Linked DNA regions of Homo sapiens. The protein of the gene in region 5 purifies or fractionates together with the protein of the main gene of each other region. This does not show direct contact. Each region holds a gene or a part of one and is shown on either strand. Other genes may lie near its edges.

Region 1 (3,500 bases), on a different chromosome or scaffold from region 5:
CAGTGAGCCAAGATGGCGCCACTGCACTCCAGCCTGGGTGACAGAGTGAGACTCTGTCTCAATAAAAAAAATAATAAAGGGCACAGACAAGTGGGATCAGGATACTTTGAAATGAGAAAAATACCCTCTTTTTCAGAAAGTAGAAAGAACCACAATGAGATAATAGTATTGATTTTTCTTAACTATCAGATCACCTCTTGAAACTGAAGAAAGAACATTTAAGATCTGAGGAAGGTATTGGAGGTTCAAAGTTGCATGTGGCTATTATGTGAAGAAATTAACTAGATAGGAATTTGATCCATGGGTCATGTTGAACGTACAGTTGATGACAGCCCAGCGTGGTATTTCTTCATTTTAGAGTGATATTTCCCATATTATGCAGAGGTTAAAGATTTTGGACAGATTACCAGAACAGAGACACAGGCCCTGGGAACTATTGATGCGTAATAGGTTTGGCTTCTGATATGTGTGATCAAGTTTTTTATTATTTCATGCTTACATTGTTCAGCCTTTGATTACAGTCAGTGCAATGTTAAGACTCTGCAGTGCTTCCCACTAAGACATCTCTCTTTTAGTTTCCTGTGGGCCGCATCCACAGACACTTGAAGACTCGCACCACAAGCCATGGAAGGGTGGGTGCCACTGCTGCCGTGTACAGTGCTGCGATTCTGGAGTACCTCACTGCAGAGGTTTGTACAGGAATGTCTGTTGTATATGGCCATCCAGAAGGTGCACTAGTCTCAGTGACAGAAACCCATGGAATATATTTGAAAAAAGACATATTATGCTCACTGGGGCTTTTTTGTTTGTTTGTTTGGAGACAGAGTTTCACTCTTGTTTCCCAGGCTGGAGTGCAATGGCCAGTCTCGGCTCACTGCAACCTCTGCCTCCCGGATTCAAGCGATTCTCCCACCTCAGCCTCCCAAGTAGCTGGGACTACAGGTGTGCACCACTGTGCCCAGCTAATTTTTGTATTTTTAGTAGAGACAGAGTTTCACCATGTTGGCCACACTGGTCTCAAACTCCTGACCTCAGGTGATCTACCTGCCTCAGCCTCCCAAAGTGCTGAGATTACAGGCTTGAGCCACCACGTCCGGCCTCATTGGTTTCTTTAATAGCAGTTTGAGATGCATCTTGTCAGCTATTACCCAATGCCAATGTAAAAGAACCTTGGTGTACTTGTTTTTAAAGCTAAGCAAGGGGCTGGGCACAGTGATTCACGCCTGTAATGCCAACACTTTGGGCGGCTGAGGTGGGTAGATTGTACACTTGAGTCCTGGAGTTCCAGACTAGGCTGGGTGACAGAGCAAGACCCTATCTCAAAGTAAAAAAATTTTTAAAAGTTAAGCAAGGGCCAGCAATCTCTTATCTTTTATTTTTATTTTTTTATTTTGAGACTGGGTCTCACTCTGTCACCTAGGCTGGAGTATAGTGGCATGATCATAGCTCACTCCAACCTCAAACCTCCTGGGTTCAAAGGATCCTCCTGCCTCAGCCTCCCTAGTAGCTGTGACTTCAGGTGTGTGCCACCACACCTGGCTAATTATTTATTTATTTATTTATTTATTTATTTATTTATTTATTTTGAGACAGGGTCTTGCTCTGTATCCCAGGTGGAGTGCAATGGCACAATCTTGGCTCACTGCAACCTCCACTTCTTGGGTTCAAGCAATTCTCCTGCCTCAGCCTCCCCAGTAACTGGGATTACAGGCACCCGCCACTACACCCGGCTAATTTTTGTATTTTTAGAGGAGACTGGGTTTCACCATGTTGGCCAGGTCAGTCTCAAATTCCTGACCTCAGGTGATCCACTTGCCTCAGCCTCCCAAAGTGCTGGGACTACAGGTGTGAGCCACTGCGCTGGGTGCTAATTTTTTATTTTTATTTTATTTATTTATTTTTTTTTGAGACAGAGGCTCGCTCTGTCACCCAGGCTGGAGTGCAGTGGTGCAGTCTCGGCTCACTGCAACCTCCGCCTCCCGGATTCACGCCATTCTCCCACCTCAGCCTCCCGAGTAGCTGGGACTACAGGCACCCGCCACCACGCCCGGCTAATTTTTTTTTTTTGTATTTTTAGTAGAGACGGGGTTTCACCGTGGTAGCCAGGATGGTCTCGATCTCCTGACCTCGTGAGCCACCCACCTCCACCTCCCAAAGTGCTGGGATTACAGGCGTGAGCCACCGCGCCCAGCCTATTTTTTATTTTTTTGTGGAGACAGGGCTCCCTATGTTACCCAGGCTGGTTTCTAACTCCTAGCCTCAAGTGGTCCTCCCAAGTTGCTGGGATTACAGACATAAACCACCATACCCCAGTGAACTTTGAAGTATGTATGTAATCAGTAGACAGTATTTGTGAAGTTAGAGCATAATGTTGTAGTTTATGAAGATTTGGGATGATGTAAAGTTTGGCCAGTGTGATGATATATAAAAATCACAAATATGATAATAGAAGTAAAAGACTCAGTCTGTCCTGGTTCTCTGCAGGGTTATACATACAAAATTGCTGTATATTACTCAGTTTGAAATTTCAGGAAGACAAGTTAATTGGGCAAGAGTTCTTGGGTCACAGACCACCACTTTCCCCATCCCTATTCCTCCTTTAAAAAAATCCGTTGGGAAGTCATAAAACTTCAGCTACATTCCAGATTGGGGAAGTAATTTGAGTAACAAGTAGGTCAAGTGTAGACGCATTCATTCTGGTGGAAACAGAAGGGTCTTACTTGGGGAGATGTGATTGGGAGCTAGGCTGAGGAATTTAGCTTTTAATCTGTATGTCAGTTATCATTGCTGTCATTTATTTCATTAGTCTCACCAAGTCATCTGTGTCCCACTGGGGATTTAACATCGAATTATGGATGTTATGGATAGTTTCAGCTTCTCTGTGTCATGATCAAGGGGTGTTTTGTTTTTGGGGTTTTTCTTGTGTGTTTGTTTTGAGACAGGATCTCTCTCTGTCTCCCAGGCTGGAAGGCAGGGACATGATCTCTGCTCATTGCAACCTCTGCCTTCTGGGTTCCAGTAATTCTCCCACCTCAGCCTCCGGAGTAGCTGGGGCTACCGGTGTGCATCACCACACCTGGCTAATTTTTGTTATTTTCTTGTAGAGACAAGGTTTTGCCATGTTGGCCAGGCTGATCTCGAACTCCTGACCTCAAATGATCTGTCCGCCCCAGCCTCCCAAAGTGCTGGGATTACAGACATGAGCCACCTTTTATTAAAAGAGGCCACCTGGCCTCTTTTATTTTTAAAAATTTTTAAATTTTAATTAAAATACATTTTAAAACTTTTCTATAAGCATTAAGAAATAAATTTCACGGCTGGGCACGGTGGCTTACGCCTGTAATCCCAGCACTTTGGGAGGCTGAGGTGGGCAGATCACGAGGTCAAGAGATCGAGACCATTCTGGCCAACATAGTGAAACCCTATCTCTACTAAAGATACAAAAATTAGCTGGGCATGGTGGCGTGTGTCTGTGTATAGTCCCAGCTACTCAGGAGGCT
Region 2 (3,500 bases), on a different chromosome or scaffold from region 5:
ACTGTGCACACACAGCAGGTTTCATGAGAAGCTGGAGCACTGGCTCATGGTTGTTAGGAGGCACCAGCTGACCTGTTTCCTGTATAGGCTCAACCTCCTCAGAAGTGGACACCCATTACTTCTCGCTGTTTCTGTGTGATCTCCATTTCACATTTCTAAAGGGTGGATCTTTTGGGGTCACTCGCTATTTTCTAATACAGAATGCTCCCGTCAAGCTCCCTTATTGATAACTGATATCTCTTATGTCCTGCCAGCAGTGCACGATTGGCTTTGAGACTGCCTGATCCACTCACTCGTAACCAGCCAAGTACTATGACCCAAACTATAGCAGAATTTGGCACAAACAGGTCCCTGGTAGCTACTTTCCTCAGGAAGGCCTATGGATTTGGAAAACACAGGTGTCTCATAAGGACATACTCATAAATTGTTTTCATGTACAATAATTCTTGTGTGTACTTTCCTCCTGTTGTCATCAAAGTGGTCACATATTAAAACTTTTCTGCTAAATATGAATCCTCATGTTTAATGGCAGAGAACCCACCATTCCCAGCACACTTACTTCTGTCTCTGGACTAATCTTGAGTAATTGGTTTTCCTTTGCTTAGGTCTTATTGAAGTTAAAACAGATGAGTTTCCTCGCCATGGGAGCAACATAGAAGCCATGTCCAAGCTAAAGCCTTACTTTCTTACTGATGGAACGGGAACAGTCACCCCAGCCAATGCTTCAGGTTAGATTTTCTGAAGGACATCTGGGGGAATACTATGTTCTATAATGTCTACCGAGTGAATATTTTTCTCTTTATTTATATACAAAAGTACTATTTTTTGGGACAGGGACTCACTCTGCCAGCCAGGTTCGTGTGCAGCAATATGATCATTGCTCACTTGCAGCCTCAAACTCCTGGGCTCAAGTGAGCCCCCTGCCTTAACCTCCCAAGTAGCTGGGGGACTACAGGCATGAGCCACCACACCCAACTCAATATTTATGTACAAAATTATTCTTAAAACAGTTTAAGGAAACATGTCATTTCTCTGTATTTGATCATTGACTTAACCTATACTGAAAGAATTAATTTGGTTTCTTGACATCCCAACTAGACATACAAATGAAGAAGTAAATTAGGGAACTTCAGTTTATCTACCTTTGTATTTTTCCAGTACCAGAAACTCCCAATACCTCCTTGTGAAGCCCAGGCTTATTCTTCCATTTCCTGTCAGAGATCTCCCCTCCCCAACTGCTGTAATCCTTTTTTTTTCTTTTTGAGACGGAGCCTCACTCTGTCGCCCAGGCTGGAGTGCAGTGGTGCAATCTTGGCTCACTGCAATCTCCGCCTCCCAGGTTCAAGCAATTCTCCTGTCTCAGCCTCCTGAGTGGCTGGGACTACAGGCGCACACCACCACACCGGCTGATTTTTCTATTTTAAGTAGAGATGGCTTTCACCCTATTGGTCAGGCTGGTCTCAAACTCCTGACCTCAGGTGATTCACCCTCCTCCACCTCCCAAAGTGCTGGGATTACAGGCGTGAGCCACCACGCCCAGCCCCGACTACTGTAATCCTACCACTTTCTCTAGTTGGAAAGTTTTGTGGTCAATATATTGCCAAACATAATTTCTATGTAAAGTCTGTTGAATTATAGTAAATGCCTTAGCCAACAGGTAAAATCATTTAACTCATGTCTTCAGGTGGTAAAGAAGCCACAGATATGTAACTGAGGTTAATAAGCATGGTAGAAATTAAGTCACTCATATTTTACAGGAATAAATGATGGTGCTGCAGCTGTCGTTCTTATGAAGAAGTCAGAAGCTGATAAACGTGGGCTTACACCTTTAGCACGGATAGTTTCCTGGTCCCAAGTGGGTGTGGAGCCTTCCATTATGGGAATAGGACCAATTCCAGCCATAAAGCAAGCTGTGAGTATAACCCTATTCCCTTTTATGAAATTTGTCTTCCTGTTAGCCTTAAGTGAGCTTATTCATGTAGTTAGCTCTAGTCTTTCCCTACCAGAAGAGTAACCAAGAGCATTTATTTCTATTTTTGAGATAAGGTCTTGCTCTGTTGTCCAGGCTGGAGTGCAGTGGCACCATCATAGCTCACTGCAGCCTCAAAACTCCTAGGCTCAAATATTCCTCCTGCCTTAGCCTCCCATTACCTCGAACTACAGGTGCACCACGCCTTCTTCATTTCGTAGAGACAAGGTCTATGTCGCCCAGGCTGGTTTTGAACTCCTGAGTTCAATTGATCCTCTTGCCTTAGGCTCCCCAAGTGTTGAGATTTCAGGTGTGAGCCACTACCCCCAGCCACTGAGAGCATTTGGATCACATGCTTTCTAGGGGAACTGATTCTGTTACATTAGCCTTAGGTACACATAACAGATGCTACTGGTTCAAAATTTTAAGACAATTTAGAATTTCTAAGGGATCTTTTAGATCACACCCTTAACCTTTTGGATGGAATGGATGTCACTAAGGCAAAAATGTGTGAGAATGTCACTGTATTAACCTAAGAACAAACCAAAGTAGCAGTTACCAGTATCATGCAGCATATATTTATGTTGACAAAGAATGGTTTAACTTTAGCCTTTCCACCCAAGTTTAGACCTCTTTTCTATGAATCTTTCCTCTAGGTTACAAAAGCAGGTTGGTCACTGGAAGATGTTGACATATTTGAAATCAATGAAGCCTTTGCAGCTGTCTCTGCTGCAATAGTTAAAGAACTTGGATTAAACCCAGAGAAGGTAAAGATGCACAAGTAACCCTGAGAGCTTACCAGTGAATTTCACAATCCAATTTTAAGATAGTATCTTCTAGGTGTTGGCCATGTGGGTAATAGTTAAAGAAATACTAGTTACTAGGACTGAGTTCATTACTTCCCAAGGTTTAAAAAAAAAAAAAAAAAAAAAAAAAGACATTGGCTTACTTGGCATAAAAGGAACGAGGTAAGATAGGCAGGGATGAATTTTCACAAAGGTGTAAATTTATTCCTAAGCAGTTAAAATGAAAATTTGAGTTTGAAAGGGTAGCATGCTGATACATTAAGAGGAAAAAGACAAGTTTAAGATTTTAAACTGTGTCCACAGAAGAATAAACAATCTAAATCTTTTCTCCCCCGTTAGGTCAATATTGAAGGAGGGGCTATAGCCTTGGGCCACCCTCTTGGAGCATCTGGCTGTCGAATTCTTGTGACCCTGTTACACACACTGGAGAGAATGGGCAGAAGTCGTGGTGTTGCAGCCCTGTGCATTGGGGGTGGGATGGGAATAGCAATGTGTGTTCAGAGAGAATGAATTGCTTAAACTTTGAACAACCTCAATTTCTTTTTAAACTAATAAAGTACTAGGTTGCAATATGTGAAATCAGAGGACCAAAGTACAGATGGAAACCATTTCCTACATCACAAAAACCCAAGTTTACAGCTTGTACTTTACTTTAATGTGTAATACTCAACTCAAGGTACAAGACAATTGCATTTAACATTGTTATAAATAAAAGGAACATCAGA
Region 3 (3,500 bases), on a different chromosome or scaffold from region 5:
TCTTAATGCTGAAAGACTGAATGCTTTCCCCTATAATCTAGGGAATGTCTACTCTTGGCAGAGTAGACAGGGATGTCTACTCTTGGCATTTCTATTCAACATTGTACCAGAAGTTCTATCTAGGGTAAGTAGGCAAGAAAATGAAACAAAAGGCATCCAGTTTAGAAAAGAAGAAGTAAAACTATCTCTATTTGCAATTGACATAATCTTGAATACAGAAAATCCTAAAGAATCCACAAACAAAATTAGAACTAATAACTGAGTTCATCAAGAATGCAGGATACAAAAATCAATATTTAAAAAATCAATTTGACTTCTATATCCTTGTAATGAGCAATTCAAAAATAAAATTAAGAAAAGTCCATTTACAATATCAAAAACAAAAAATAGTTAGAAATAAATTTAACAAAAGAAGTGCAAAATGTACACCACAAAAACTAAAAAAGACTGCTGAAAGTAACTGAAGAAGACCTAAATAAACAAAAGCTATTCCATGGTCATGGATTGGAAGGTTTACTATTGGTAAGATGGCAGTAATTCCCAAATTGATCTATGGACTCAATGCATTCCCTGCCAAAATTCTAGCTAGCTTGGAGGTTGAAACTGACAAGCAGATTCTAAAATTCATATGGAAATGCAAGGGACCCAGAATAGCCAAAACAATCTTGAAAAAGAACAAAATCTTGAAAAGAACTCTTCCATCCCAATTTCAAACCTAAATACAAGACAGTGTGGTGCTAGCATAAGAATGGACTTACAAATGAGTAAAACAGAATTAACAGTCCAGAAATAAACCCTCACAACTGTCAACTGATTTTTGAGGATGCCAAAACCATTCAATGGGGAAGGAATAGTCTCTTCCACAAATGGTGCTGGGACAAGTGAATATCCACATGCAAAAGAATAAAGTTTCCAACATGGCAAAACTCCGTTTCTACAAAAAATACAAAAATTAGTCAGGCATGGTGGTGTGCACCTGTAGTCTCAGCTACTCTGGAGGCTGAGGTGGGGTGGATCACTTGAGCCCTGGAGGTCAAGGCTGCAGTGAGCCATGATAGCACCACTGCACTCCAGCTTGGGTTACAGAGCAAGACCCTGCCTCAAAAAAAAAAACAAAAAAACAAAAAAGCCCAGGCACAATGACTCACATCTGTAATCCCAGCACTTTGGGAGGCCAAGGCAGGCAGACTGCCTGAGTCCCAGGGTTCGAGACTAGCTTGGGCAACATGGCAAAACCCATCTCTACAAAATTTACAAAAATGAGCCAGGTTTGGTGGTGCACACCTGTGGTCCCAGCTACTTAGGAGGCTGAGGCAGGAGGATCGCTTAAGCCAGAGAGGTTGAGGCAGCAGTGAGCTGTGATCGCCCCACTGCAGTCTAGCCTTGGTGACACAGAGAGACCCTGTCTCAAAAAAAGAAAAATGAAGTTTAACCCACTTCATATCATATTCAAAAATTAACACAAATGGGCCGGGCACGGTGGCTCACGCCTGTAATCCCAGCACTTTGGGAGGCCGAGGTGGGCAGATCACGAGGTCAGGAGATCCAGACCATCCTGGCTAACACGGTGAAACCCTGTCTCTACTAAAAATACAAAAAATTAGCCAGGCATGGTGGCGGGCGCATGTAGTCCCAGCTACTCGGAAGGCTGAGGCAGGAGAATGGTGTGAACCCAGGAGGGGGAGCTTGCAGTGAGCTGAGATCGGGCCACTGCACTCCAGCCTGGGCGACAGAGCAAGAGAAAAGGAAAGAAAGAAAGGAAGACAGGAAGGAAGGAGAGGAAGGAGAGGAAGGAAAGGAAAGAAAGGAAAGAAAGGAAAGGAGGAAGGAAGGAAGGAAGGAAGGAGGGAAGGAAGGAAGGAAGGAAGGAAGGAAGGAAGGAAGGAAGGAAGGAAGGAAGGAAGGAGAGAGAGAAAAAAGAAAAAGAACGAAAAGGAAGGAAAGGAAGGAAAGAAAAGAAAGAAAGAAAATAAAAAAAAATTAACCCAAATGGATCACAGGTATGAACGTAGGCGCTAAACTGTAAAACTCTTATAGCGCAACCATAAGTCTGCCTGACCTTGGATTAGGCAATGACTTCTTTAGACACAAATCAAAAAGCACAGCAACAAAAGAAAAAAGAGATACACTGGACTTCATCAGAATTTAAAATGTTTGTGTTTCAAAGGATACCATCAAGAAAATGGATGACAACCCACAGAATGGGAGAAAACATCTGTAAATCTGTTGAGTCTAGTATCCAGAATATATAAAGAACTATTATAACTCAACAATAAAAAGACATATAACCCAATTTTAAATGGGCTAAGGATCTGAATAGACATTTCTCCAGCAAAAGTACACAAATGACCAAGAAGTACATGAAAAGATGCTCATCATTAGTCATTAGGGAAACACAAATCGAAACCACAATGTGATACCACTTCACACCCACTAGGAAGGTTATAATAAAAAAGATTGACAGTAACAAGTGCGGGTGAGGGTATAGAAAAAATTAGAACCCTCAAACATTCCTGATGAGAATGTAAAATGGTGTAATGGCTTTGGAAAACCATTCCTAGGTACACAATCAAGAAAATTGAAAATATATATCCTTATAAAAAGTTGTACACAAATATTCACAGCTGCATTATTTGTAACAGCCAAACTGTAGGAACAACTCAAATGCCCAACTGATAAATGGATAAATAAAAGTGTCTATCCATATAATGGAATGTTCTTTGCCAATAAAGGGAAATCACGCCAGGCGCGGTAGCTCACGCCTGTAATCCCAGCACTTTGGGAGGCTGAGACGGGCAGATCATGAGGTCAAGAGATAGAGACCATCCTGGCCAACATGGTGAAACCCCATCTCTACTGAAAATACAAAAATTAGCTGGGTGTGGTGGTGCACACCTGTAGTCCCAGCTACTCAGGAGGCTGAGGCAGGAGAATCACTTGAACCCGGGAGGTGGAGGCTGCAGTGAGCCAAGATCGTGCCACTGCACTCCAGCCTGGCAACAGAGCAAGACTCCGTCTCATTTAAAAAAAAAAAAAGAAAGAAAAGAAAGAAATCACACCTATGACATAGGTGAACCTTGAAAACATGCTAAGGGAAAAAGCCTAATACAAAAGACCACATAGTATATGATTCTATTCACATAAAATGTCCAGAATAGGCAAATCGGTAAAGACAGGAAGTAGACATGCAGTGTTGGTGGTTGCCAAGGGCTGAGGTGAGGAGTGACTGATTACAGGTAACAGGATTTCTTTCGGGGATGAAGAAAATGTTCTAAAATGATTGTGATGATAGTTGTACAACTCTGTGACTATACTAATAACTTGAATTGTACATTTTAACAGATGAATTGTATATAAGTGAATTATATCTCAATAAAGCCATTATAAATTTTATAACATCTCTTTCTTGTGGACAGGGATACAAGTCAGATTCTCACCGAATTTCCCATTACTTCATACGTAAGTTTCTAAGATGGTAAGTAACTGATCCCAATGACTGG
Region 4 (3,500 bases), on a different chromosome or scaffold from region 5:
AACTTTGACTCTTCCTTTGAAACTGACTTTTTAAAAATGTATTTCATTTTGCTTTTGTTTTCTTTATCAATTTTTCAGGTGATACACCTTTTTATGCAGATTCTTTGGTTGGAACTTACAGTAAAATTATGAACCATAAAAATTCACTTACCTTTCCTGATGATAATGACATATCAAAAGAAGCAAAAAACCTTATTTGTGCCTTCCTTACTGACAGGTAAATAATTTTAAAACTGAGCCTGTATTAATTCTGAGGACTTCTCATCTTCTGCTCCATTTTTAAGGTCCATATCTGAGCTTCTACATGTAAATTGTTAGAATATAAATGACAGTGAAACCTGATGTAATTTTATGATATTCTAGATGTCTTTTGTAGATCTCAACTCACTTATCATACCTAAGAAATTGTGATAATAATACAGTCTTGGCTGATGGCTAAACTAGATGACTTTTTTCTTTTATTGTTCAATTTTTAACTTGGTTAATTATAAAAATTACTGTGTATTTTACTGAATCTAAAAAAATTTTTTAACATAACATCTCTGAAATTAGAGTACATCTCACAGTCAATGGTATGAGTTGGGAGCATCCTTTTTCATAGTGGTATAAAAACGGTGATACACCTTATACTTTAAACCATTTTAGATTTGATGATGTATGGTATATGGTTGTTGAAAGAGTCAATAGTATAAAGCCATTTTTAAAAGTATACTATCTTTTTTCTTCTAGACATAATAGTTGGTGTTCCATCTTGTAGATCCAACAAGCATTTTAATAATAATGTCTGTCTGCATTTTTGAAAGAAAAATGGCATATTATATATACCTTTGTGGTTTACTTTTGAAATTTGAAAGTGAACCAGATGTATTAGTAAGATTATATTTAATGTTTATGATTGTATATTGTTAAATATTAGGGAGACCTAGTACTTTTAAATATGTTTCAAGTTGAGATTTGCTTTAACTTGTCTCCCTTCATTATGTCCTTTAGAGCTTGAAGTATGGTTTTTCAAATGTTTACTTTTTTTTTTTTTTTTTTTTTTTAAATAGAGACAGGGTTTTGCTCTGTTGCCCAGGCTGGTTTCAAACTCCTGGGATCAAGTGATCCTCCCACTTCAGCTTCCCAAAGTGCTGGGATTACAGGCCTGAGCCACCCATGCCTGGCTAATTTTTACATTGATTGATTGATTGATTGAGACAGAGTCTCACTCTGTTGCCCAGGCTGGAGTGCAGTGGCATGATCTCGGCTCACTGCAACCTCCACCTCCCGGATTCAAGTGATTCTCCTGCCTCAGCCTCCCAAGTAGCTGTGACTACAGGTTCCTGTCACCATGCCTGGCTAATTTTTGTATTTTTGATAGAGAGGGTTTCACTATGTTGGCCAGGCTGGTCTTGAACTCCTGACCTCATGATCTGCCTGCGTTGGCCTCCCAAAGTGCTGGGATTACAGGTGTGAGCCACCGCACCTGGCCAATTTTTACATTTTAATATAAAGCATTGTATTATGCTGTTTATTAGGTGCTAGGGATATAGTAGTGAGGAAGATACAGAGCCACTTTTCTCAAATACCTCATAGTCCTTTGGGGGAATTAGATAAGCAAATCAGACATTTATAGTACACACAGCTAATTACCATGAGATAAGTACCATGTGCCGGAGAACCATGGAGAGGTTTTCTAATCCAGTTTGAGAGTTAGTGAAAGCTTCTTGGAAAAATTGTCACATGTCTAAGCCAACTTATCTTTTAGCTTATGCAAAAACTTAGAATTTAGAGTATTTTCTTTATTTATAAGCACTGTACTAGGGAAAAAAGGTGCTAACTTTCTTTTTCCAATTCAGCTAAAATCACATTTTTAAAAACTTTTTGCTCACCAAAAAAGAGGCTGGTATCAGTAACTTGTCCAGTGAAAGCTCTGAATTCTGTGGCAGTATCAAGAATTAGTAGTCATTGGCTTTTGAATGGTCAGAAATAATTAATAGATTATAAATTGGAAGTTCAAAATTTTAAATGTGTTTCTGGAGGTTTTTGGTAGCATCTGGTATTGCTGCCTAAGTAAAGTTTTGGTTGGGGAAAAAAAAGCCTAACTTTACCATTGTAAGAAAAAAATAACACACACACACAAAAAACTGTCAAGAAAATGCATGGTGCTTTATTCATTTTGCTAATGAAGTAAGGTGGTGATTAATCTGGATTTTTGTTGTCAGTAGAAAAGTCATGGGTGTTTTTTGTAGTTATTCTTTAGTTTTCTTTTTTTTGAGACGGAGTCTCGCTGTGTTTCATCCAGGCTGGAGTGCGGTGGCGCAATCTCAGCTCACTGTAGCCTCTGCCTCCCGGGTTCAAGCGATTCTCCTGTCTCAGCCTCCCAAGTAGCTGGGACTACAGGCGTGTTCCAGTACACCCGCTAGTTTTATATTTTTAGTAGAGATGGGGTTTCACAGTGTTGGCTGGGCTGGTCTCGAACTCCTGACCTCAGGTGATCCACCCCACCTGAGCCTCCCAAAGTGCTGGGATTATAGGCATGAGCCACCATGTCCAGCCTTTCTTTAGTTTTCTTTTAAAAAAATTCTTTAATGTTCTCAATCTTTAACATATTTTCTATTTGGGCTGATACTATGCTGACAATATAATTTCACCTTAGAACTATATTTGTCGTCCTACACTGATTTAATATCCTGCCCACAAATAAACCTGGACAGGTTATAATAAGATCTTAAATGATTGATTACTTTTCTCCTTCTGTCATTATTCAGGGAAGTGAGGTTAGGGCGAAATGGTGTAGAAGAAATCAAACGACATCTCTTCTTCAAAAATGACCAGTGGGCTTGGGAAACGCTCCGAGACAGTAAGTTTTTTTTTTTCTTTCATATTTTAGTGAATATTTGAAAGTAGTTGTGGTAGTTTGTTGAAACTACATTGCTAAATATTTGTGTGTATCTGATGAAAATCAGAAGCCACAAATACTATATGGGAATTGTCCTAACCTATTAATTTGATAATATTGGGCAGATTATATTGTTACTCCTCTTATGTCCCACGCAGGATACCCAGATGAAATATAAATGTAATGGATTTAGGCTCACCAGTCATAATTTTACATTTGATCTTTGTTGAATTGTTCATTTTAGGCGTTAGTTATCTTATTATGGAGGTGGTCAATAAGTAGTAAGTAATGAGATTAAAATATATGTTTTTGTGAGAAGACAAGTTATTCTCTTGTTTTTATTAAAACCCAAAATATAAGAAGGTTCTATTATTAATTCCAGAATTCAATTTAATTTTATTTATGAGTTTATAGGATATTGTGATATACTTGATTCCATCAGGCTTTTGCAGCTGGCAATTCAGAAACAAAAATGTATTGTATAAGAAACTAATTTTCAGTCAGTTTAGAACACTTTCTTACTTTTTAAAAAAAGTTAAAATTACAAGATGATTCACAGAAAACTCTACAACATAGCTGAATCAAAATTATCATGACACCAAAGGTTCTCATCATCTTC
Region 5 (3,500 bases):
TGCTGGCTGACCGGGCTGTTTGCCATACTGTGCTTCCCACACGTTGGTGCTTCTCAGTGTTCAGGGTGTGGGCGGGTGTGTGTAGAGGCGGCTGTACTACTGTCCCCTGCCTATTTCCTGCCCTCTTCATAGCCAGGCAAAGTAGCAACTTGGAGGCGGAAAACCACAGTGGTGATACCCTATTTACATCCTTTACAATGACCTAGTGTCCCTCCTGTTTTGCCAGCTCTCATGTTGCTGCCTCCCCCAAACATCCCTCTCATAATTTGTTTAAACAGCAGCCATGCCCCCGTATCTACTTCTTTCAGCCCAAACCCAGATGAGTCACTGAGAGAACTTCGGACAGGGATTCTTCACCATGAGATTGATGGCAGGGAGTGGAAGAATTGTAATTCTGGAGAAACAGCCCTTAAATTAGGGGCATTGTTCTGGGAAAAAAAGTGTTTTCCTATTCAGCAGATCTGCAAAGGAGTCTGTGACTCTCCAAAAGACTACAGATTTAGGGAGTACAGTGCAGGTGTCTTTTAGAAAAATAAATTTTTTAAAAATCGAAAGATTAGGTATTTTTCTGTCTTCCAAGTAATAGTTCAGATAAACCTGGTGTTTGTGTGGCCTCTCTTATTTTGTCATGAGGGCAGCGAGCCATGGTAGTTGCATATGGATTAGTTGTGATTTCTCCTTATGTGGCAGGCTGAGCCCCAGAGGATTAGAACTAAAGCTCAGGACTTCGGCTGTCTTTTGGATGGCTGCCTGGGTAGATATGCAGATGAATTCTCCACACAATGATATTGGGGCTCCATGATGTGTGGGGTTGGGAGTGGGGGCAAGAAGTCAGAGGATGGGGTATAGTTTTTCCTCACCCTTGCTCCTAGGTTAAGTCCTCATTGGTCTCCCTGTAGAGTCTCCTGTGGAGATGGGTTTGTAGCCTGTCTGCTTGGATGGCCCTGCAGATTCTGCCTTGAGTGTGGTCTTTGCCTTGAAGGTCTGCTTGTCCTTTTGTGTTGTAACAATGTAGTTTTAGGGTTCAAGTATGGAGCTGTGAATTGACCTGGCCCAGAGTTGCCTCAGATTCCCTCCTCTTTGCAGAATGTAGGCAGGTATTGGTGTGGGGATCCAGGGTATTTACTGGTAAGGGAAAGAATGTGTTGTTCATGATGGTAGGAAAGGCCCCCTTATTGGCTTGCTTCTTGGCAGACCAAAGAGCTGAGATACAGCCATGTGGTAGTGCTCAAGAGGTCTGAGCAGGCTTCCGTGAGATGATCTGAGCGCTTGGATTCCTTCTGCCTGGAGATGGGTAACATTTGAGATTCCAGTTTGGTTCTGAATTCTCTCATTGCCTTCTGCCAGGCCATCCTATCCCTGACATTGTAGTGCCATAAGAAGTCATGGATGTTGTGATGCCAGTGGGATGAATATGGCTCCAGGAAAGAATAGAATAGAGAGGGGTTCATTAAGTTAAGGCTTGGGGCTATAACACCAGAGCCACCCTGAAAATCACAGGGAAGAACCAGCAGGAGGGTGAGAAGAGACAGTGTATTCATATTTTGGCTTTGGCATTTTTTCTGCATAGACAAGGGTCTGTAAAGCTATATTAGATACTATGTTGGTTCAACCCTCCACTATTAGGGTAAAATCTACCTTGGATAGAGAACCTGTTTGGGAAGAGGAAGGAAGGAAGCAAGATGGGTGGGTGACCCTGATCTTCTCTGAGGTATCAGTTGCATCATCTCAGGCCTCCTCTGCCTGATCCTTCTGTCATCTGCTCCATTAGCTCCTAGGCTTTTGCAAAACTGGAAACCCTTCATCTGGAGCCCTCAAGAGCAGTACTACTTAATATGCCAATCTTCAATGAGATAAGAAGCATATGTACCAGAATGTAAGACTGATCTCTTCATCAAGAAAATCTTGTATGAAAAAATGTTAGAACTAGACAGTGTGTTTACTCTGACATAATTGATTTACATTCAGGCTTCATATAAGTTTTCTATATAGTGACCAGCCAGTAACACAGTTTGCAAATTGGCAGCTAATCTGCAGACCATACTTGGAGTAGCAGTGCTCTAGAGCTGCCTTTCATTCAGAAGCAGTTGTTGAGGTCATGGAGTTGTTTGTTTGGTACAGGCCAAGGGCAGTCAGAAATATAGAGCCCTGGTTAAGAAGAGCTGTCACCCAGAGCATTCAGACATGGGTCAGGGCAGCTACTGAGGAGAAGAGGGGCACAACGAGAGTGAGACAGCTGAACAGATGATCAGGCACTGCCTATGCCAAGGGTAAATGCCATGTCCTCCCTTTCCTTTACCACAGGCGTGTGAGCTGAGGGACTAGAGCTAGGGTCTTGGTTTTGCCTGTTGCTTCTAATGGCAGGTTGGCCGCACCAAGCTTACCCTGTCTTCCTAGGGAAACGGCATACACTGGAGAAGAATGTGTTGGTTGTCTCTGTAGTCACACCTGGATGTAACCAGCTTCCTACTTTGGAGTCAGTGGAGAATTGTAAGTACCATCCTGTTCCCTGTCTTAGAAGAGCAAACACTTGTCTGAAGCTGTAACTCTGGATGGCCTGGCCTAAACTGCTGATGCTCGGCCTGGAGTCCCCCTTGACCCTGGGGACCGAGGGTCACCAAGTGCTGAGAGCCATGGAAGATGAGTTTTTCCTATGCAGAAACTTAACCAGTGCTAAAGGTTGGCTGTGGAACATCACACTGGCTCTTCACTGAGTCCCACAGGACTTCTACCTGGTGTACTGAATACATTTCTATTTTAGGAAAGTGTATACTTTGCTACTTTTCTCTAATAGACCCTACACTGGGGAAAGCAGGGGTTCTGGTCACTTATACTGAGATGAAGTTAAGTCATTAGTCCAGTGACTGCCTCCTGTCTTCCCTGAGCAGCATTTGGGGACTTCTCAGTCTCCAAAGTGAACAGTTGAGTTTGGCTCCTTCCTCACATTCTTGGAGGAAGTAGCTGAAGCATAGAGGAAGGGGAAAGGAGGGTGATTACAAAGGCATTGGGAGCATCGCGTGCTGCACTCACCCCTGCAGGCATCCCTGTTCCCTTTGCCAGGAGAAGACTTCTTTCATCTTTCTGCTGTGGAAACTGACCCATGAGGTAGGTGGTGCTTTGTACAGACCTCCACTCCAGCCTGACTCTTGCTGTACATCATCATCCAGGGTCTACAGAGTCACTGTGGTGACCACCCTCCCACTCTGGCCCCAGACCAGGCCATCCTACAGCTGTCTTGCTCTGGGGACATCTCCTCATTGAAAGATTTTTTAAAATATATGGTCTTACTGTTTTTTTTTTTTAGTCCAGTGATTTATATAGAATATCTGGTCTATAATCTGAGAATAGAAAACCTTAACCAACTAAATGAGTTCATTTCTGTCATTTCAGATACCCTGACCATAAATGATGACCAGTGTTTACTCCTCTCTGAGACTGTCTGGGGAGCTCTCCGAGGTAACAAATTGGGGCTGATTAAAAGAGAGAGAGAAAGGATGATG
Region 6 (3,500 bases), on a different chromosome or scaffold from region 5:
TGCAGTTTAACGTTGGAACGTACAGCCTCAGACGGGCAAAGGGGGCGACTGCACTTCTGCCGCCACCAGGGTTTTTCTGTCAGGTTAGAAAGTATTTCACTTTGAGGCTAAAAGTCTCACAAGGTATCTTAACGCTGATGGAATGTTATTTTCATGGAATCAGTATAAGAAATTATATTGTAAAGTATTAGATACTTTGCATTCATTCATACTAGGTTTCAGTAGCTTGTGTTTTAGACTTTGCGCTTGTCACATTTTAAGTGGTCAGTGACCACAGGCTTGTGGCTGCCCAGCTGCAGAGCACAGTGCAGTCACAGAGGAGCCTGTCTTAGAGACGCGTGCTTTAGGTTGGCCTGCATTAGGGCTTACATTGATGTTTCTGACGTGTTAATACTTACATAGAAAGGTTTTGACATTTTTTCAATTAGCCCCTTATGTATAGTCTTACTTTTTAGAACAACTTATTGTCATTTTCTCGTTTAAATAATATGAATACTTCTCTCTTTCTGTTACTATGTCAGTTTCTTATTCACTTAGTTCAACAGATCTAGTGCTAGCATGGCCTGTGCTGCTGTTGGTCCTACTGGGAACGCAGGTAGAGTCTCCATGGTCAGGATGCCGTGTTCTGTTGTGGTGCTGAGGCCTGTAAGCACTTGGCTAGAAGTTAGGCCAGGGAAGCTCACACTGACCTTGGTATTTGAAGGTCCCAGAATGAGGTTGTTGAGGTAGAACAGAGATGGGAGAACATGCCCTTGGAGCTGGACTCAACAAGAAGGCCCCTCTGGGGGAAGCTGAGGTTGGACAGGAAGGGCGTGTGCCCTCACTGACTTGCTCACAGGCTTGGGGTTCATCTGTTTTGGTTTTTGCTTTTTTACATTATATTAACATGGAAATAAAAGGTGTTCCCTGGGATGCTCCCGGCTTCTCTGCTCAGTAGCTTTGTGGCTCTGAGTAAAATGAACTTGCCTGTGTTGAAATATCCTAATTTTTAAACTTACTTCATAGGGACTGAGGAATTACGACTTTTATCAATTTTGTGACCTGTTAAAATGTTAAAAAGGACATGTATTTTTTAAAGATCTTTAAGTAAAACATTTTGCTCATTCCCAAAGCCAAATTTAAATTATACCATGGCCCTAATTCAGAAGTTCATTCTTTGGCAGGTGTTTCCTTGGTGCCTGGGGCACTCTCTCTTTCTCCCAGTTCCTGTGGCAGTTTGTCCAGGTGCCCAAGAACAATTCATACCCTCCTTTCTCGTTATTTATATACTTGTCTTTTTGCCCCTGCCGGGTATTTTAGAAATCGTGCTTGGTGCACTTTGTGTCCTTCAGTGTGCCTTACCCAGAGCAGATGCACGATAAGCATTTTTACACGAGAACAAGCTGGTGGTGTAGGCCTCTGCTAAGGAACAGGCTGTATATGCTCTTTGTGGGATTAAGGTAGAATCAGCTTTAACTCCAAAGAAACTGTCCATGAATTTTGTTTATAATAGCAAGTAGATTTAAAATGACACTTTAAAAAAATTCTGTTGTCTTTCTCTACATATAATGCTGTAGAAAAATATAACTGATGGATTTTGTGAACGTGGTATTTTTAACTTTTCGTAGCAGCACAAAGAATGCTCCTCTTTGTGTGTCAATGAAATTGTTCTTTATGACAGCTTCAGGGTAAATCTGCAGAGACCAGAGAAAGCACACAGCTGAGCCCTGCAGATCTCACAGAAGGGAAACCCACAGATCCCTCTAAGCTGGAAAGTCCGTCATTCACAGGAACTGGTGACACAGAAATAGCTCATGCAACTGAGGATTTAGAGAATAATGGCAGTAAGAAAGATGGCGTGTGTGGGTAAGAAAAGTGGTTATGTCTTGATCTAATACGCTGGTGTCTTCACAGTCCTTTTGGATTAAATGGGATCCCAGAGCCACTTCTTGGTCGGTTTGAGGGGGCAGTACATGTGTGGTATCAGGCACATGCAGTGTGAGGGCTGGACTCTGTGGAAGCCGGAAGGTTTCAACATCTGCCGCAAACCGTTCCATGTTGCACAGAACTGACAGAAAGGAAGAATGTGCTTTTGGTATTGAAGGTTACCACACATTACAGATTGATTTGTCTCATCCTGATTCCCTTTTTAGTCCTCCTCCATCAAAGAAAATGAAGTTATTTGGATTTAAAGAAGATCCATTTGTATTTATTCCTGAAGATGACCCATTATTTCCACCTATTGAGTAAGGATTCAGCCTTTTTAATTATTCATTTAAAGAAATTTACTATAGAGTATCAAATGTACAACTGATCACATGTAACCATTGTTTTGTATGTAGTTCTGTCTAGCTTTTTTTTTTTTTTTAACCTTTTTAACTGCATATTAGAGCAGGATGAAACTTTAGAGGTTACTCAATCTTTTAATTTAAGGAGAAAGTAAACTTTTACTTTGTGAACATGATAGATAAAAAAAAACTGGACCGGGCGCGGTGGCTCACGGCTGTAATCCCAGCACTTTGGGAGGCCGAGACGGGCGGAGCACGAGGTCAGGAGATTGAGACCATCCTGGCTGACACGGTGAAACCCCGTCTCTACTAAAAATACAAAAAAAATTAGCCGGGCGTGGTGGCGGGCACCTGTAGTCCCAGCTACTCTGGAGGCTGAGGCAGGAGAATGGCGTGAACCTGGGAGGTGGAGCTTGCAGTGAGCCGAGATCGCGCCGCTGCACTCCAGCCTGGGCGACAGAGCGAGACTCCGTCTCAAAAAAAACAAAAGAAAACTGGACTGTGATTATGAATCTAAATTAGTTGTGATCCTGAACCTAAATTACTCAATTGAGTATATAGACGAGTAGCCAAGGTTGTCTAGTTCAGTTTCTGTAGAAGAAATGAAGAGCAGCATGGGTGAGGGCTAATTAGGGATGACATAGACAGAATATAGAGGAAAAGGGTTTAGGACAAGTCTGACATTCATCTGTTTCTTATTCATTGAATTTTAGAATCTATTTACCAGGGCGGTCACTTACTGTCTTTTTTAATAACTGGTCCTTTGCATACATTTGTAAAAGTCTATTAAAAAATAAGTCTCAGCCGGGCACATCCCAGCACTTGGGGAGGCTGAGGCAGGCAGATCATGAGGTTAGGAGTTTGAGACCAGTCTGACCAATGTGGTGAAACCCCGTCTTTACTAAAAATACAAAAAAAAATTAGGTGTGGTGGCGTGCACCTATAATCACAGCTACTCAGGCTGAGGCAGGAGAACCGCTTCAACCCGGGAGGCAGAGGTTGCAGTGAGCTGAGACTGCGCCACTGCACTCCAGCTTGGAAGACAGAGCAAGACTCCATATCAAAAAAAAAAAAAAAGTCTCAAAAGTAGTGTTATCAGGTCATTATCATTGGAGTAGCGGCTGAGGGAGAGAAGCTGCACTTGTTAATTTAGGTTTCTGATGGAGTTGTGCCCCAAATAAATGTTACGTGGAGGTTTCAGGTGGAAGTGGATGAAGTTTAGAAGCTGGAGTC
Region 7 (3,500 bases), on a different chromosome or scaffold from region 5:
TGAATAAATGATCTGTCTTTATAAAGGAGATGGAAGTGAATTCAAGATATTGAGATGTTAGATTTGACTGGGTTGTCCTTTGGCTAGAAGATCACCAGATAAAATGTAAACCTCCTAAACTAGATGAGATGATACCATTAAACATTTTTTTTGGCCCAGCACTTTGGGAGGCTGAAATGGGAAGATCGCTTGAACCCAGGAGTGAGGCTGCAGTAAGCTATAATCTGCCATGCACTCCAGCCTGAGCAACAGAGTGAGACCCTGACTAAAAAAAAAAAAAAAAAAAAATGTTTTTCCTTTGGTTCTCATGATCTCACACTGATGAATCTGATTGTTTTCTCTGAGTTATTTTGCCTCTCTCATGTTATTAGGGTAACCTGATAATAGACATGTTATCTTAGTTGTGTGGTATGTGACAGTGATCTCCTAAATGATGTGCATCAATCATTGATACTGAGGATGATCAGAAAATATTACAACTGTTATTGATGTTTACTTTTTTAATCTACAGATTAATGATAATGCATATTAATACTTAATATTCAGATTGCCAATAGTATATATTTGGTGGATAAATATCTTTTGGATCTGCAAAATTTTCACTTGATAGTTTATATCAGGATCAAAGCAGTTTAAAGAACATTAAAAGATAAGAATTTGGCATCTCATTTCTCTAAAAGATAAGTCATGTGTGTCCACATCTCAGGCAATTTTTTTCAGTTTTAATAAGTTTTATTCCTCATAATAAAATTTTTTTAACAGAAAACTCTTGATTGCTGTAGACCTCTGCTGTGTATTCGGTAGTCACTAGCCATATGTGGCTATTTAAGTTAATTCAAATTAAATAAAATTAAATATCAGCTCCTCATTTGCAGTAGTCAGATTTCAAGGACTAAGTAGCCACATGGACAAGTGGAAGGTGGTGTTCAGTTGCTGCTCATAATAGTTGATACCCTAGGATTTGGAGATGCAGTGTGGATACACAACAATTCCATCATCTCAGAAAGTGTTATTGGATAGTGTGGCTACAGACTTTTCTTGCTCAGCAATCTTAGTCTCCGCATGTTAGTCTCTTCATGCATCAGGTAGCATCTATAAAACATGCCAAAAGGAAGTAGGCTATCTCTAAAAGTGTCCCAAACTTTTTGTCTTGTAAATTAGCTTATCAGCATACTTGGAGCCTCTAGCCTTAATAAGGACTTGTTATCCTTATTAAATGTGTTATCAGGAGAAAGCCTGTCTTTTTCTGGAGGAATTATTCCCTTTTCATTTGAATCCGTGTTTGCTTTATCTTGGGTTCCTGAAAACTGATATTTTGCATTTAACAGCAGCATATGCCCAGGATGAATGATAATACATCTTCTGATACAGAGCTTGAGATTACAGAATGTCTTAAATTGTTCCAGGAACTGTTGTTATCATTTAAGTCCAATAATCAGTTAGTAAGGTTTCACCCTACCAGAATACACTTTTTTTTAAAATAAAAACTGTCTGGACTTTTGCTGATTACATTGTCCAGAATGTGGAGTATCACATTTGAGAAAAGGATTGGATCCTAGCCATAACATAAATACAAGGGTAATACATCCATGCTGAGAAAGATTAAGGAATGATAGTAAGTTTATTTGAGTGAGTGGTTGGGGCCAAACTTGATAGAGAATAGTCCAGGAAGACATTTACTGTAAATGGTAGATTAGATGTTCTTCTCTGATTAATTACATTTGAACTCTGTGAATTATTAAATCACTCAAACTGCTTATTTGTATTATTAGATGCACATTTAAGTTATATAAGTATTACATGTCTTTAGTGGTGATCACTATTTTATCAGTTCCTCTGTCTGTCTTTATACCAAGTATGAGTCATAAACCCAGTATGAATTTGCCAAGAGATTGGCAGACTATTTGTATATATGCTTTTCTTTCAAATAATCTGGATTTCCAATGCCCGCTATCATCAATTCTAAAGGTAATGTGGTAGTAGGTAGATTTAGTTTGCTAACAGTTTCCCAGTTGGTTTTGATAAACTCGAACGTCCCTACCATCACCCCTTGTAGGAAATCACTGATGTAATGTATGATATTAACATCTGCACCAATTACTCTTACAGGTGGAACAATCCAAAGTTTTAATCAAAGAAGGTGGTGTTCAGTTGCTGCTCACAATAGTTGATACCCCAGGATTTGGAGATGCAGTGGATAATAGTAATTGGTAAGAAGGGTTTGTCCTCACAACTTTGCAGTGCATTTGGGGTACTGGGGTGGTTAAACTTTTTCTTCTTAACATTTTAAAACTTCTCATCTTAGCAAAGGTCACCAAACTTCAAGCAACATGACTTGGGTTTGTATACCAACTTTGCCACTTATCTGACAAAGTTGTTTAACTTCTTTGAACCCATTTACTTTTCTATAAAATGGAGATAATACCTATCATAAAATTGTTTTTAAGACATATTCTAAAATAACATAGGTAAATAGAAGAATTCTCATTATTGTAAGAAATTTAAAACTGTTCACTTTAATTTTATTCATTTGTATAAATTCTATCTCAATCCTAATTTAAACCTGATATTTAGACTTTCAGTTTTTCTGTAAGTCCTAAGTGAAGAAAACAACTATGAAATTTTAGTCTGAAGTAATTATCTTAGTATTTTATAAATAATACTTTTATTTTTGTTTGAATTCACATTGTTTTTGAGGTAATTTTCTGTCAACTCTTAAAACTCCCAAGTTCACCATGAAGTTTTTTTATTATTTAAAGTAATCTCTCATTTGAAATTTTAAACTGCATATAATTGTTTTCATATTATGAAGTGTGTTATTAATACACTTATTAGTGCAAATAATATGCTAATATTTAGCTGTGTTTCGACAGTAAATAGTTTATTTTCTTTCATTTGGAAAGTTTTGAATAATGAATATTTATTCAACATAATTTATATTTTTGAATATATAGAATAACTTGACATATCTTCTACTGGTAAATTCATTTTGCCCATTTGAAAATACTGATTATTGTCCTTTAACAGTCATCAGTTAATTCATATGTAGAATTGCAGCTTGTTTTGTTTATTTGCGTTCTATAGCTGGCAGCCTGTTATCGACTACATTGATAGTAAATTTGAGGACTACCTAAATGCAGAATCACGAGTGAACAGACGTCAGATGCCTGATAACAGGGTGCAGTGTTGTTTATACTTCATTGCTCCTTCAGGACATGGGTCAGTACCTTGATACTTCTGATTCCTTTTTTGTTGTTGTTGCTTACTGTTACCTTTATGTGCATACTTTAGTAATCTTTAAGTTTGTGAAGTACACACAACTATAGCCATTATGAAGTACTAAATTTCATGTAGAAATGTCTTAGTTGAAAAGCCATTTTAAGTCCTATATAAGCTAACAGTGATTTTACTCCTTAGTTCTTCATTCATAAGGATTTTCCCTGCTTCATGAAATAAACAGTGTTGCCACCATGGTTTGAGGTCTCAATGTGGCAAATTTA

Evidence for each region.
Region 1: the proteins of HEXA (region 5) and H2AZ2 fractionate together in Homo sapiens (co-fractionation; one large-scale study listed by BioGRID). This does not show direct contact.
Region 2: the proteins of HEXA (region 5) and ACAT2 fractionate together in Homo sapiens (co-fractionation; one large-scale study listed by BioGRID). This does not show direct contact.
Region 3: the proteins of HEXA (region 5) and XPNPEP1 fractionate together in Homo sapiens (co-fractionation; one large-scale study listed by BioGRID). This does not show direct contact.
Region 4: the proteins of HEXA (region 5) and ROCK1 fractionate together in Homo sapiens (co-fractionation; one large-scale study listed by BioGRID). This does not show direct contact.
Region 6: the proteins of HEXA (region 5) and NSUN2 fractionate together in Homo sapiens (co-fractionation; one large-scale study listed by BioGRID). This does not show direct contact.
Region 7: the proteins of HEXA (region 5) and SEPTIN7 fractionate together in Homo sapiens (co-fractionation; one large-scale study listed by BioGRID). This does not show direct contact.

Annotation. Positions count from the first base shown.
Region 1 is NC_000007.14:44,838,088-44,841,587, reverse strand, and holds part of H2AZ2 (histone H2A.V), read left to right. Parts: intron 1-575; coding exon 576-689; intron 690-3,500. UniProt on the Homo sapiens protein: Variant histone H2A which replaces conventional H2A in a subset of nucleosomes. Nucleosomes wrap and compact DNA into chromatin, limiting DNA accessibility to the cellular machineries which require DNA as a template.
Region 2 is NC_000006.12:159,775,545-159,779,044, forward strand, and holds part of ACAT2 (acetyl-CoA acetyltransferase, cytosolic), read left to right. Parts: intron 1-605; coding exon 606-728; intron 729-1,757; coding exon 1,758-1,912; intron 1,913-2,625; coding exon 2,626-2,736; intron 2,737-2,953; exon of another isoform or gene 2,954-3,114; coding exon 3,115-3,285; 3' UTR 3,286-3,500. UniProt on the Homo sapiens protein: Involved in the biosynthetic pathway of cholesterol.
Region 3 is NC_000010.11:109,917,012-109,920,511, forward strand, and holds part of XPNPEP1 (xaa-Pro aminopeptidase 1), read right to left. Parts: intron 1-3,500. UniProt on the Homo sapiens protein: Metalloaminopeptidase that catalyzes the removal of a penultimate prolyl residue from the N-termini of peptides, such as Arg-Pro-Pro. Contributes to the degradation of bradykinin.
Region 4 is NC_000018.10:21,038,814-21,042,313, reverse strand, and holds part of ROCK1 (rho-associated protein kinase 1), read left to right. Parts: intron 1-78; coding exon 79-217; intron 218-2,750; coding exon 2,751-2,842; intron 2,843-3,500. UniProt on the Homo sapiens protein: Protein kinase which is a key regulator of the actin cytoskeleton and cell polarity.
Region 5 is NC_000015.10:72,355,515-72,359,014, reverse strand, and holds part of HEXA (beta-hexosaminidase subunit alpha isoform 2 preproprotein), read left to right. Parts: intron 1-2,364; coding exon of another isoform or gene 2,365-2,397; coding exon 2,398-2,490; intron 2,491-3,390; coding exon 3,391-3,456; intron 3,457-3,500. UniProt on the Homo sapiens protein: Hydrolyzes the non-reducing end N-acetyl-D-hexosamine and/or sulfated N-acetyl-D-hexosamine of glycoconjugates, such as the oligosaccharide moieties from proteins and neutral glycolipids, or from certain mucopolysaccharides.
Region 6 is NC_000005.10:6,605,545-6,609,044, reverse strand, and holds part of NSUN2 (RNA cytosine C(5)-methyltransferase NSUN2), read left to right. Parts: intron 1-1,660; coding exon 1,661-1,845; intron 1,846-2,132; coding exon 2,133-2,225; intron 2,226-3,500. UniProt on the Homo sapiens protein: RNA cytosine C(5)-methyltransferase that methylates cytosine to 5-methylcytosine (m5C) in various RNAs, such as tRNAs, mRNAs and some long non-coding RNAs (lncRNAs).
Region 7 is NC_000007.14:35,870,557-35,874,056, forward strand, and holds part of SEPTIN7 (septin-7), read left to right. Parts: intron 1-2,109; coding exon 2,110-2,210; intron 2,211-3,084; coding exon 3,085-3,219; intron 3,220-3,500.